Regions from separate parts of the Homo sapiens genome. Here region 2 is linked to region 1. Evidence: fine-mapped expression QTL. Tissue or cell type: lung. Region 1 holds a variant in brackets; the other region holds the start of a gene. All regions are shown on one strand. Distances are between the middles of the regions.

Region 1 (6,103 bases):
ATGGAGACTATTTAAGAAACATGAGTAATTAAATCTTCCAAAGTATTACAAAGTAGTATAAGGATTATTTTGTTGAATTTTTATAGCACATGAGTTCGGCTTATTTGTTTCTCTACTTAAAAAACAAATAAAAATCAAATGCATAATAAACACACAAATATAGAATGCTTGACCTTACATGAAACTGCTATGAGGAATTAGACCCAAATGACATTTATTGTATATAATTTTTAGCTTGATCTCACCACAACTAGTAGAAGTACCTAATAACTGTAGTTCAGGTCTACCAGGAGTGAATTTATAATCAAAGTCTATTTTATTCTTTTTATTTAGTCAAGGAGTATTCACACCATTTAAATGTTCACACCAACAAAATGTTAAATTCTCAATGTTTTAATTTTTAAAAGTTTGCATTTGAACAGAAATGTGAAAGACAATTCACTATCCACAGACAAATGGATCTATCCTGCTGGATTCTTGGATGGGTTACAAAAGTGGCAAGTAGTTAGAGAAGGAAGCAGTTGGTCACCAGGACCCATCATGGATCGGGAGGAGAGTCAGCTTCAGGCAGTCAGCCTTTCCTTGCTGTCCTAGCTCAGCCACCCATTCACATCTTTGTGCTGATACTTACCACATTATATTGGCACATGCTTTTACTACTGATGGATGGTGCTTTCCCAGGGTAGGCGCTGGTTCTTATGTGCCTCTGGATCCTCAGTGCCTAGAACAAATCAGATATTTCCATTCTGAGCTAGTTCAAAACAAAAGAGAATTGCTATAAGCATAGTATATACATTTTTCTTGCATTCTTTTTCTTATATGATTTTATATAAATCATATACAATTTTGACAAAGTTTCTCACTAGATCCCCATGGCATAATGAGAAAATATACTCTTTATAGCATGCACACCTGCCCCCCTCAACTTCCCACACAGTATTAAACCCTGCATAAAATCCCTCAACCACTCTCCAGAGCTTTCTGAAATAAGACAAATGACCTTTCTGCAAATTCTGTAGAATCAGAGCAGTGCCTGTTCCCTGGCCCCACAGGATGTCTGCGTTTGGGAGACTTCGCTGGCCTCTCCTGATGTTTGGCTTCCAAGCAGCCACTGTGAACTACTGGCATCCTGGCTGGAACCATTCACCACGGAGCCCTCCCTGCTTCTGCACATCCCATTTCCTCTGTCCCTCTCCCTGATTCATCTTGGTTCCCTCCCCTTCATTCTTTCTAATTCGGATTAAGCTTCACTTCTTCCTGATGACTTCCCCTCCTCTCCTGGCCTCTCTTCTTTGTCCTGCCATTGCACTTTCCACGTTGTCCTGTAAATCTTGATTTACTTTTCTCCCTTTTCCACTAGGTACAATTATCTTTGAAAGCAGAGGCTGTGTTTTGTTTGACTCTGTGTCACCAGCACTTATTTTAGTTTTCAGCAGCAATATTTGTAGAATTAATGAATTATTTATGAGTGAATAAAGGCAAGTAAGAAGTAAATTTGACTTAGAAATCTCTTGCTTCTGTGTCGGGGAGGATAATAATAAGATTAAGACAGGATACGTGGGTGGAGAAATGCTGAACTCAGTTCAGACTATGTTGAACATGAGTCACTGGAGGTGGGCAAGGTGGCGGTGGCGGGGGGGAGCATTTAAACAGATAATAAATAACATGAATAACATTTAACAAATATTTGTTTAGAGCCTGCTAATTGCCAGGCAGAACATTGTGCAGTAAAATGGCAGTCACCTTGCCCAGAAGATTATGCCCTTAAGGCCTCCCTGAGGCAAGCAGTTGGTCAATAGGTAAAAGACAGGGGTGCTGAAAGTCGGATGGCTTTAGAATGATCTCCAGAGAAAGCCAGGCCCCAGCGCTTGCCTGGGAACACAGGGAAGCCAGTTTACAGGGGAGACTGAATCCTGGCTTAGATTCCCCCTGACCTAAACTGCTTCCCTTGTTCCATGTCTCCTAAACAAGGACTCCTCTTCAAGGATCAACTTCTAAAGACTAGGCCTATGACAGTAGCCTTCAGTGTAGGACTTAATCGGGTGGTAACTGAATTCTCACTACATGGGTGATACTTTAACTAGAGTCTGCGCCCAGCCGAACTCTTTTCTTCTAATATCTGATTGTTATCTATCCCATGGAGGGAAGTGCTTCTGTCTTTTCTTTCCCTGTGGGTACTCACATCTCCTTATATTTTGGGCCAGTTGATTGCCTTGTGACCTTTGTGAGGTACAGTGAGTTTCTCTTCAAAGAGTCAGCTTGCTCAGCTTCCTTGTTCTTTGATCTCAGTTTTCAAAGTCTAACTTCCTCGTTCTTTGTGCCTCCTTGCCCCTAGTTAGGGTAAACAACCTTCCTGCCAGTCCTACTCTAAAACTCACATCTACTCCCTTGGTTACCCACTCTGTAACTGACCTTCCCCCTAGAACTATCCTTCCTGCCTTTACTGCACCCTAAAACTGTAACGGACAGCCTCTCCCATCCCACCTAGTTAACTCTATTCAATTTTAAACAGTAGCCAATTGGGTCAGCTTAGATTGTGCAGTCCAACTACAGCCAATGGAGAAAGGGACACAGCTACAGGAGCTGCTGTGTTTGGAATAAAACCTCTTCCCCACCCCACTTGATGTGCTCTTGCAACCACACCAGGCACAAGTGGCACTCTTCTGCAGAAGTAAATC[G/A]CCTTGTTGAGAAAGCTTTTTGCCAGAGTGCTGATTTTTCTTTGCAGCACCGAGCATTTGTTTCTAACACCTTAGGTCTCTGTTAGGTTAAAATTGAATTTCTTTTTTTAATTTTTCACAGTGGACATGAACTTCCTTCAGCTCTCCTCTATAATCCAAAGCTCAACGGAACTTGATTTGGGGTTTTTAAAATTTGCATATTTTCATTCATCAAAGGTATACACACATAACTATTTTAAGAAGCCACTGTAAAAAGTTTCCCTATCCTTTAGGAGTTTATATGCTAAACACACACACACACACACACACACACCATAAAATACATGTATAATAAAACTCACAAACAAGTTCGTTCAGAATAAGCTGAGCATTTACACAAATTTGGTTTAATTTTAAAAGACAAGGAGGGTTTTGAGGTGTGGACAAAAAGAGTAAAACTCTGTAAAATATTTGAGAAGATTTATTCTGAGCCAAATATGAGTGACCATGGCCCATGACACAGCCCTGAGGAGGTCCCAAGAAACATATGTCCAAGGTGTTTGGGGTACAGCTTGGTTTTATATATTTTAGGGAGGCATGAGACATCAGTCAAATACATTTAAGAAATACATTGGTTTGGTTCAGAAAGGCGGGACAACTCAAAGTGGGTGGGGAGGTGAGGGGGTTGGGGGGAGGGGCTTCCAGTCTATAGGTAAATTTAAACGTTTTCTGGTTGACAATTGGTTGAGTTTGTCTAAAGACCTGGGATCCATAGAAAGGAAATGTTCAGGTTAAGAGAAAAGACTGTGGAGGCCAAGGTTCTTTTGAAGTCTTATAGTGGCTGCCTTAGAGACAATAGATGACAAATGTTTCCTATTCAGATCTTTAAAAGGTGCTAGACTTTTAGTTAATCTCTTCAGAATTGGGAGGACCTGGAACAAAAAGATCTGTAGGACATCAGTCAGGGTGGTGGGAAAAGTTATAAGAAAAAATTTTAGGGAAAGACGCAAATCTCCTTGGAAGGCTGGGAGGTTTTGCAAAAGCTTTCAGCTAAATTCTGCCATCAGCTAAATTCTCTTAAGGGTAAAGGGTAGGTAACAAGGGAATGTAAAGGAACTTAGCTAGATAAATTGGTTTACTTATGTCCCTGGAAACCAGCCTTTGATCATTCGCACTCAGGAGCTCTCTAACTTGGGGGGTCCACAGTGTTAATTACCCACAAGTTGTGTTTGCTCCAGGCCTTTGTCATTAAATCTGTACTAAATAAATACAAATGGCTCCATCTTATCAGGGCTGCACTCTTGTCAATGGTGCTATGCTGTGCAGTCCCCTAGCCACGCTCTCAGGCAAAATACCTGTGTCTGTGCACTCCTTTCATCTGTCTCTCTGCCAGGGTTGGTGGGACAGACCTGGCAATGATCTATGTTAATAGAGATTCTTTACAGATGCAGATTTTCCTCCACAAAGAATGGCTTTGCAGGGCCATTTCAAGATATAGCAGAGAAACATGTTTTGGGGTAAAGTATTTTGATTTTGTTTTTTTGTTGTAGTTGTTGTTTGTTTGTTTTTTGTTTTTTGAGACCGTATCTCTTTCTGTTGCCCAGGCTGGAGTGCAGTGGTGCAATCTTGGCTCACTGCAACCTCCCTCTTCTGAGTTCAAGAAATTCTCCTGCTTCAGCCTCCCAAGTAGCTGGGACTACAGGCATGCACCACCACACCTGGCTAATTTTTTCTCTTTTAGTAGAGACAGGGTTTCACTGTGTTGCCCAGGCTGGGCTCAAACTCCTGAGCTCCAGCAATCCACCTGCCTTGGCCTCCCAAAGTGCTAGGATTATAGGCATGAACCACTATGCCCAGCCCAGTATTTTGAGTTTCTTCCTTGTCTCGTAATGTTATGGCAGAGTCAGATTGGAAAGTAAGTCACAATATATAGGATTAAATAAAACCCATCTGATGAGAATTTATGGTTTGTAGGGCATGACTCCCCAGGTCACTCAGATAGAAATCTGGACAAGAAAAAAAAATCAGAGATTAGTCCTCAGAGGTATTTGTGTGTATCTCAGTATTGTTATTTAAAGAAAGTAATTTAGAATTATGATAGCACTTCATTATATGTAATATGATTCATATTTTCACATTTCTTATTATCATCATTTGAATAAAAAATTCAAATGTGATTTATTTTTAAAAATTATTATTTGCTTTTCATTAGCTAAGGAAATAACAAATATTTGCTATTTGTTTATTGGGGCACATGAAGTGAATTATGAAACTGATTGCATTCTCTTATAATTGACTTCCACTCCTCTGACACCAGTCTTATCTCCCGTTTACTACAACACTGAATTTCCTACACAATTTATATATCTATTTTTTTTCTTTCCTTTACATATGACATGTACTATTACCCTGCTCTCTAGGAAGAGCCTTATTTTCAACCACCATAGAATACATGTAAGAATTATTTCCAAAGACAATATTTGTGATATTCTCTTATTTTCACATTCATTCACATGAGAAAGAAGGAATAACTCTTCTAGATATCTTTATCTACCCACTCTTTCATTGAGTTTATGAGCTAATTAGGTGGAAAGGAAATGCATTATTTTCAATATATCATATTCTTTCACATTTATCTTTTCAGTAAAACAATAAATAATAATTTTGAATTTTGAAAGTTGTATACTATCTCAACAATGAAACTTCCAATGTAGCTCAATATAGCAAAAAATTTGCTAGTCTTGAGATATGAAGACTTAGTTGTTTTTCTTTCATTATAACCTCAGACAAATAATTAACTCTATAGAGACCAATTGCATCATTTGTAAAATGCATGTAATATTATCTATATCGAAGGACTGGTGTGAGAATAAAATGAAATACATGTAACAGGGTCAAGCATCAGGGTATGCATCCAACAATATCTGCATTGGTTTCTTCCTAAGCATGCTGTGCATCCATTACTGCCTCTGGAAATAACCTTAATGGCTTGGCAAAACTACAAATATTAATATTATATAGGCACAACTGATTATTAAATATCAAAGATTTTATCACCATTACTCTAGATATTTAGTAGTAATTCTTTGGCTTTATATTTATGCTGTTTAATCATATAAATATTATGAATGAACATAGAATAAAGGATATAGTCCCAGTAAATGCTTAAAAATGTAATAAACTGATAGATCAATATTGTCTCCCTCTGTCCCTCTCTCCATCCCTCCCTTCTCTCTCTTTCTCTCTCTAGTGTATTGGGTTCTTTGAGTAGATGTTAGTAGATGCATGTACTACTAGAGAGATCAGTGGTGTTTAATTCTATTTTTTTTTTAAGCAAAGACTTAGATGGTTTATTTTAACTCTGCATTTGTTTAGCACATTTACAAAAATAAGTTCACATGGAAACATTAGGAATAAAATTCACGAGTTTACAGGAAGAAAAGGAA
Region 2 (6,103 bases), 200 kb after region 1:
CTTCTGAATTGTCCTTTTCTCCTCCCTAGAAGACTTCTTTCTGCTCCCGTTAAATGTCCCCAATTCCTATCTATCCCTAGTCCCTCTTAAAATCCAACTGGAGTTTACTGCTCTACTCTGAAGTCTCAAAACATGCTAATCTTCACAGATTACCTTGTATTGTAATTGTTGGCCTAGTTAGTATTATCTGCCCCTTGACTAAGCTTCAAGAGGCCAGACTTGGTCTTTTATCTGTCTTCCAACAGTTCATTCTAGAACCAACACACAACAAACAAAAGTCAAATTGGTTCTCAACAGTTTACTTTCAGTGGGCTTGCGTCCTTAAAATTGTCTTTTATAAAAATATCCTAATTCATGAGAAACATTAGAGGAAGGCAAGGCCCAGCTTACTTAAAAATAATTAACTATAGTCTGTTACATAAAGTAAAAATAGATTAAACACTATTATTTTAATGCAGTATATAAGACTTTTACTAAGTATCACTGAACTACCTTCTGAGACATGATTTTTACTAGATCTGAATAGTAATAAGATAAGTCACAGAGTCTTCTTTTGCTTCGGTTCCTTGTTTGATAATTATGAACCTTTAAATTTATATTGTTTATTTTATTTCCCCTAGTTTTCGTTCTCTTTCTGATTTAATCACACATGCAGAGTAAGACATTGGATGCTAATAATCTCAGCCACCATTAAAATGTTTGTGTCTGATTAAAATTAATGCATTATTGAAGGGAAATATATTATTATCTAATAAGTGTGGATGTGTATTCTATCATACTTCAATCCTTCGAAAATGCTGGACTAGTGAATATCACAAAACAGGAAATTAGTAATACAAAATAAAAATGTTAGGAAGATGCTGTAAAATGAAAATACTGATTATATCTGGGTGTTGATATCACCATGACTTTTTAAATTGCTCTTCTGATTTTTACACCTTTTTTACAATGCACAAACTGTACTTGTATAATAATAGTTATGTCAGCGAGAATGTATGCACTCGTATTTAGTTAAGAAATATTGTGGCATGTACAGTACAGTCCTGATTAATAAACAATCTGGTTAATAAATAATAATTTTGTCTGTATTATGAGGAAAAACTGACATTACTCAGAAATTCAACACACTGAAATCGAAAGTACTAGAATGATCTACTTACACAAATCGTCTTTTAAAACACTACATGACACTTGAGTAAACCAGCCATCAAACAGGACGCGGCTTTTGGATGATCATTACCTATAGTTGGTAAGAACTGAAAATTTTTAGGGGTAAAATTTAGTGTATACAGTACCTTATTATGCAGCAGAAGAGGCTAGTAGGTCGAATCCTGCCCAAGAGGTTTTGCAATTTTCTCTTTAAAAAACACCTACTTCTCCCGCATCCCCAACACCCACAGCGCTCCTTAAAGGAAAATGGATACGGATGCCCCATCCCTTTGGTTTCTCAATGCATTTTACTTAGAAAGAGGTCACCTAGTAAGACCCATGTGGTGAATGTGCACCCGGGCGGGGCATGAGGGTCCTTGGAAAGCACCGCAGAGAGGGCGACACCGCAAACCGCTGTCCCACGCGACCCCCGGGGCGAGCCGGGGCAGCGCTGCACTCGGTGCGCACCGGCAGCGTCTGGCACCCACGCCACCTGCTGCTCCCGCGGGTCTGGCAGGGGCAAGGGGCGGAGTGGGCAGGATCTTCAGATCAAAGGAGACCGATGCTTGCCCACGGCATCCAGCGTAGGAGCCGGAATCGAGGTGACCCCAGATTTTCCCAGAGTGTCTGTCTCCTTTCCCTTCTCAGAACTCCGAGAGCCAACGCTAAGGGGCACCAGAGGCTCAGACTGCGGCGGCGACTCGCAGGCACCCAGCTCGCCCGCGGCTGCGGAGGTCCTCGGAGGAGCCCACCCGGGAGGGGGTCTGGACGCAGGCAGCGGGGGCAGAGGGAGGGTCGAAGCCGCTCCAGAGGGTCCAGGTCCGAGGAGGAGCCCTCGGAGACGCGGACGGTGCGCGCGGAGGGCAGGGCTAGGCAGTGACCCCGGGTGGCACAGGGCTTACTGTTTCTTCCTAAGACTCTATGAGGCCACTTCTAATCGTTTACTTTAGAATAGGAAAGAAAACATAGACAAATGGGTGGCTGTCACCCAGGCAGCTACACGGTCGATGCAGGTGCACAGGCGTGCGCGCCATTCTCCCGTGTCACACAGCAGGACGGAATAACTGCACGCACTGGGAGCGATGGATCTCGCGGTCCGGGATCCGAGACGCATTCAGAGACCAAATGTCACCTCATCCCTCCTCTAGCCAATTCGAGCTTCCTCCGCGGACCCCCACCTTCCATCCGAAGTGGCTCGGTCCTTAGTTGAGAGGACTCTGCCCAGACCCTCGCACCAGTAGAGACCTCTGCCCGGGCGCCTGCAACTCGGACGCTTCCCGGAGCCAGAGCGTGCGGGCGGCGCGGCCGCGAGGAGCCTCACCGGCCATGCCGTCCGCAGTCTGACTTTTATTTTTCTCTTCAGTGATTAAAACAAAATATCGTGGACAGGGGGACAGAAAGGAAAGAGCAGGCGCCTGAGCCCGGGGAGCCGGGCGGGGGCCCCCGGGCCCCGCGGCCCCGCCGCCGCCCGCCCCCGCGCGCCTTCTCCCTCCTCCCGGGCCGAGCCGGCGCCACTGCGCCAGGATGGAGCGAGCTCGGCGCGGGAGGAGATGACGCAAAAGCCAGCGCTCCCCCCAAAAAAGTGTTTCTCCAGGACGAAGATGGCGGCAACTTAGCCCGCGGACTGAAGATGACTGTGGCTCTCGGGAGGCCCAGCCCAGGCGATTCGGCCCGGAGCTCCGCGGGAGGCGGCGTCAGCAGTCGGAGCCCCGGCGGCGGCGCCCGCGGGCGGCCCTGCGGCAGCGGCGGCGGCGGCGGCGGCGGCGGCAGCACTTAGAGCGCGGGGTGGGGGGTGGGGGGGAGGGAGCGCCCCGCCGGAGGCAGCCCAGGCTCCGGACTCTGGGAGAGCCAGCGCGGAGCAGGAGCGGGAGGCGGAGGAGAAGAAGAAGGAGAAGGAAAGGAAGGAGGAGGAAGAGGAGGAGAAGAAGAGGAGGAGGAGGAGGAGGAGGGGAGGCGCTCCGGGCGCCGTCAGTGGGCAGCGGAGGCGCGGCATGCCCCTGGCAGGGGAGAGCGGGCTGGGCTCCGCGGGGCCATGGGGACCCGCGCGCTGACAATGCCTGGGTGACCGGAGCCGCGCCAGCCACCCTGTCACCTCCACCATCGCCCCCTGCACCCAGCCTCGCCGCCGGCCACCAGCACCAGCCTCCTCCGTCTCTCTCTCTCTCTCTCTCTCCATTATTGTTTCCCACTCTACAGAGGATGGGGTCGGCTGATGATTAGGAAGCAAGTCAGACCTTCCTTCAAAGCCTGGTAATATTTATGTAGGCAAAAGAGACAGAGAGAGATAAAAGAGAGGGAGAGGGAGAGAGAGAGAGAGGAGAGAGGGAGAGGGGAAGAGAGAGAAAGAGAGAGAGGAGAGAGAAGAAACGGGAGGAGGGGATAAGGAAATTAAACCCTTTAAGTCAATGCATATTGTGGTGACACCGGCACAGGCGCCCTCACGGTGGAGTCGGCCAGGGCTGTGCGTTCCCAAAATATGACCAGGGGTGCTTGGATGTGTCGGCAGTATGACGACGGCTTAAAAATCTGGTTGGCAGCACCCCGAGAGAACGAGAAACCGTTCATCGATTCCGAGAGGGCTCAGAAATGGCGACTGTCTCTGGCATCTCTCTTGTTTTTCACAGTCCTGCTCTCTGATCACTTGTGGTTCTGCGCCGAGGCCAAGCTGACCCGGGCCCGGGACAAGGAGCACCAGCAGCAGCAGCGGCAGCAGCAGCAGCAGCAGCAGCAGCAGAGGCAGCGGCAGCAGCAGCAGCAGCAGCGGCGGCAGCAGGAGCCCTCCTGGCCCGCGCTCCTGGCGAGCATGGGGGAGTCCTCGCCCGCCGCCCAGGCACACAGACTCCTCTCCGCCTCCTCGTCCCCCACCCTGCCCCCCTCCCCGGGAGACGGCGGCGGCGGCGGCGGCAAGGGCAACCGAGGCAAAGACGACCGGGGCAAGGCTCTTTTTCTAGGAAACTCTGCCAAGCCCGTGTGGCGCCTGGAGACTTGTTACCCCCAGGGCGCGTCCTCGGGCCAGTGCTTCACGGTGGAGAATGCGGACGCGGTGTGCGCCAGGAACTGGAGTCGGGGGGCGGCCGGGGGGGACGGGCAGGAGGTGAGGAGCAAGCATCCCACTCCGCTCTGGAACTTGTCGGATTTTTACCTTTCGTTTTGTAATTCCTACACACTTTGGGAGTTGTTCTCGGGGTTGTCCAGTCCCAACACTTTGAACTGCAGTCTGGATGTGGTGCTCAAGGAAGGCGGCGAGATGACCACTTGCAGGCAGTGCGTCGAGGCTTACCAGGACTATGACCACCATGCTCAGGAGAAATACGAAGAGTTTGAAAGCGTGCTCCACAAATATTTACAGTCGGAGGAGTACTCGGTGAAATCCTGTCCTGAAGACTGTAAGGTAGGAACCCTCGGGGGTTTCCCCCTTTCCTGCACTTTCCTATCTCTGCTTGGTTGGGGTGTCTTCTCAAGTTTATTATTATTATTTTTTGGCTATGGTTTTGTTACTTTGTGTTTTCTGCGGTTATTAAGAGCTTGGCTTGCTGTTTGAGATGAGAATACCTGGTGGATTGCTGGTGGACTGACTGATGCCTTCTTCTGGGAGTCCTTGGAAGATCAGGGAAGTCCCCGGTTATCTGAGATAATCAAGCTGGCACTTTAACTGTTTCTTACATTCATGCAGTTGGCTCAAACTCTGTTACATCTTTTAAGAAAAGGAAGTTGAAAAAGTCTTGTCAGGAAAATAGCAATGAGACTGCACACTGATGCTCACAGGTAAAGTCAGAAGAGTTCGAGACAGGCATGTGTGGTTTGCAATATAGATCTGCACACAGGAACGCTCTCATAGTGACATCATTAAGTTGGTTGAGCAAGAGAAAGTGGTTGTAGTTGTTTCGGTAGTTAAAAAGAATTACCTGTTTTTACAGGGGTAGTTCTGGTTGTTCAGAAAGTCTGGGGGCCTACCTGAGGATATTTACTTTTTTTAAGTTTTCTGTTTCCTCTTGGACATTTGTATAATTATTGATCTGGGACTCACTATGAATGAACAGTTGTAATTAGGTGTCTAGTGATTGACTAGCAATAGGCTATTTATCAGACACACTATGTAATTAGCTTGATTTTCAGTATGCTTTCCAGAAGTATTAAATAGCAAAACGTTGATGATGTAGTTAAAATTTACTGAAATATTTAATAGTCTGTATTATATTTAAGCTCTCCCTGTTCAGTGTAATAAAGAATATAACCCTTGCTGATGGGCAAATGGGAAGCCTGCGCAAGTTTCTTAAGAATTGGTCGATGCAAATGCAACAATAGGCGCAGGTTTTAATAGAAGCGTCTCTGTCCGTGGTGCTGAAATGAGATTTACCCAAGAGCTGTACTGAAGATGAAGATACTGCAGTGACCTTTAGTAGGGAAGATGTAATGACAGTATCTCTATAAGCCTTAATGTTTTGTTCCAAGGGTAATTTCTTACACAACACAATAAACGGGTACTGCTTTTCAAGGGAAATAATACACCACATTCTCTCTCTTTCTCTCCTACTTTCCCAATCCCATATACAAGCAGAACAACTGTTCCTCTGTCTCACTTGCGTTCTGCTGGGAAAATAAAGTCAAGGGTGGTATAGATCAAATAATTTTGTGATTTTTTTGATAAAAGAACTGGACTAAGGGATGCCTATTTTAAATGAACACAGTCGAAAGGCCATATTTTACTTTGGGCGGATTAGTTGTGCTTTTGACAGTTAAATTAAACTCAAACTGACCTTGCCTTATTCTCATTCTTCAAGACCAGAAACACAGCTCTCTGAAAATAGTAAGTCTGAATTTACAACATTAATTTAGAGTGATACTTCACTAGACAAGTGTATCTTAAACTTTTTTATCTATTTTTTTAACCATATCACTTTAACTTATGCCTGGGAATAAAACTTTAATGGTAGAAATTAATAATGAATAACTA

Which allele goes with the higher level. Alleles are on the strand shown, and positions count from the first base shown. SD is a standard deviation of normalised expression in the study named.
With allele G in place of A in region 1, the expression in lung of the gene that starts at base 2,726 in region 2 is lower (moderate effect, 0.41 SD a copy in GTEx).

The links. PIP is the estimated chance that this variant, and not a neighbour inherited with it, causes the effect.
Region 2: it holds the start of NALF1, and the variant in region 1 is fine-mapped to the expression of NALF1 in lung (TOPMed, PIP above 0.99).

What each region holds. Positions count from the first base shown.
Region 1 is chr13:108,066,211-108,072,313 of GRCh38, reverse strand. No RefSeq gene overlaps it. Among named protein-coding and RNA genes, the nearest start is that of LIG4, 150 kb to the left of the region's middle. The variant G/A (reference allele first, on the strand shown) is at 2,679.
Region 2 is chr13:107,864,119-107,870,221 of GRCh38, reverse strand. NALF1 (NALCN channel auxiliary factor 1) reads left to right here and starts at 2,726. Exons shown (of 3, transcript NM_001080396.3): 1 at 2,726-4,540. The coding sequence starts at 3,626. It overlaps LOC124903206 (heparan sulfate glucosamine 3-O-sulfotransferase 4-like), which reads right to left and starts at 3,549. Exons shown (of 1, transcript XM_047430833.1): 1 at 1-3,549. The coding sequence starts at 3,325. The coding sequence ends at 2,762. RefSeq lists an enhancer at 1,690-2,258.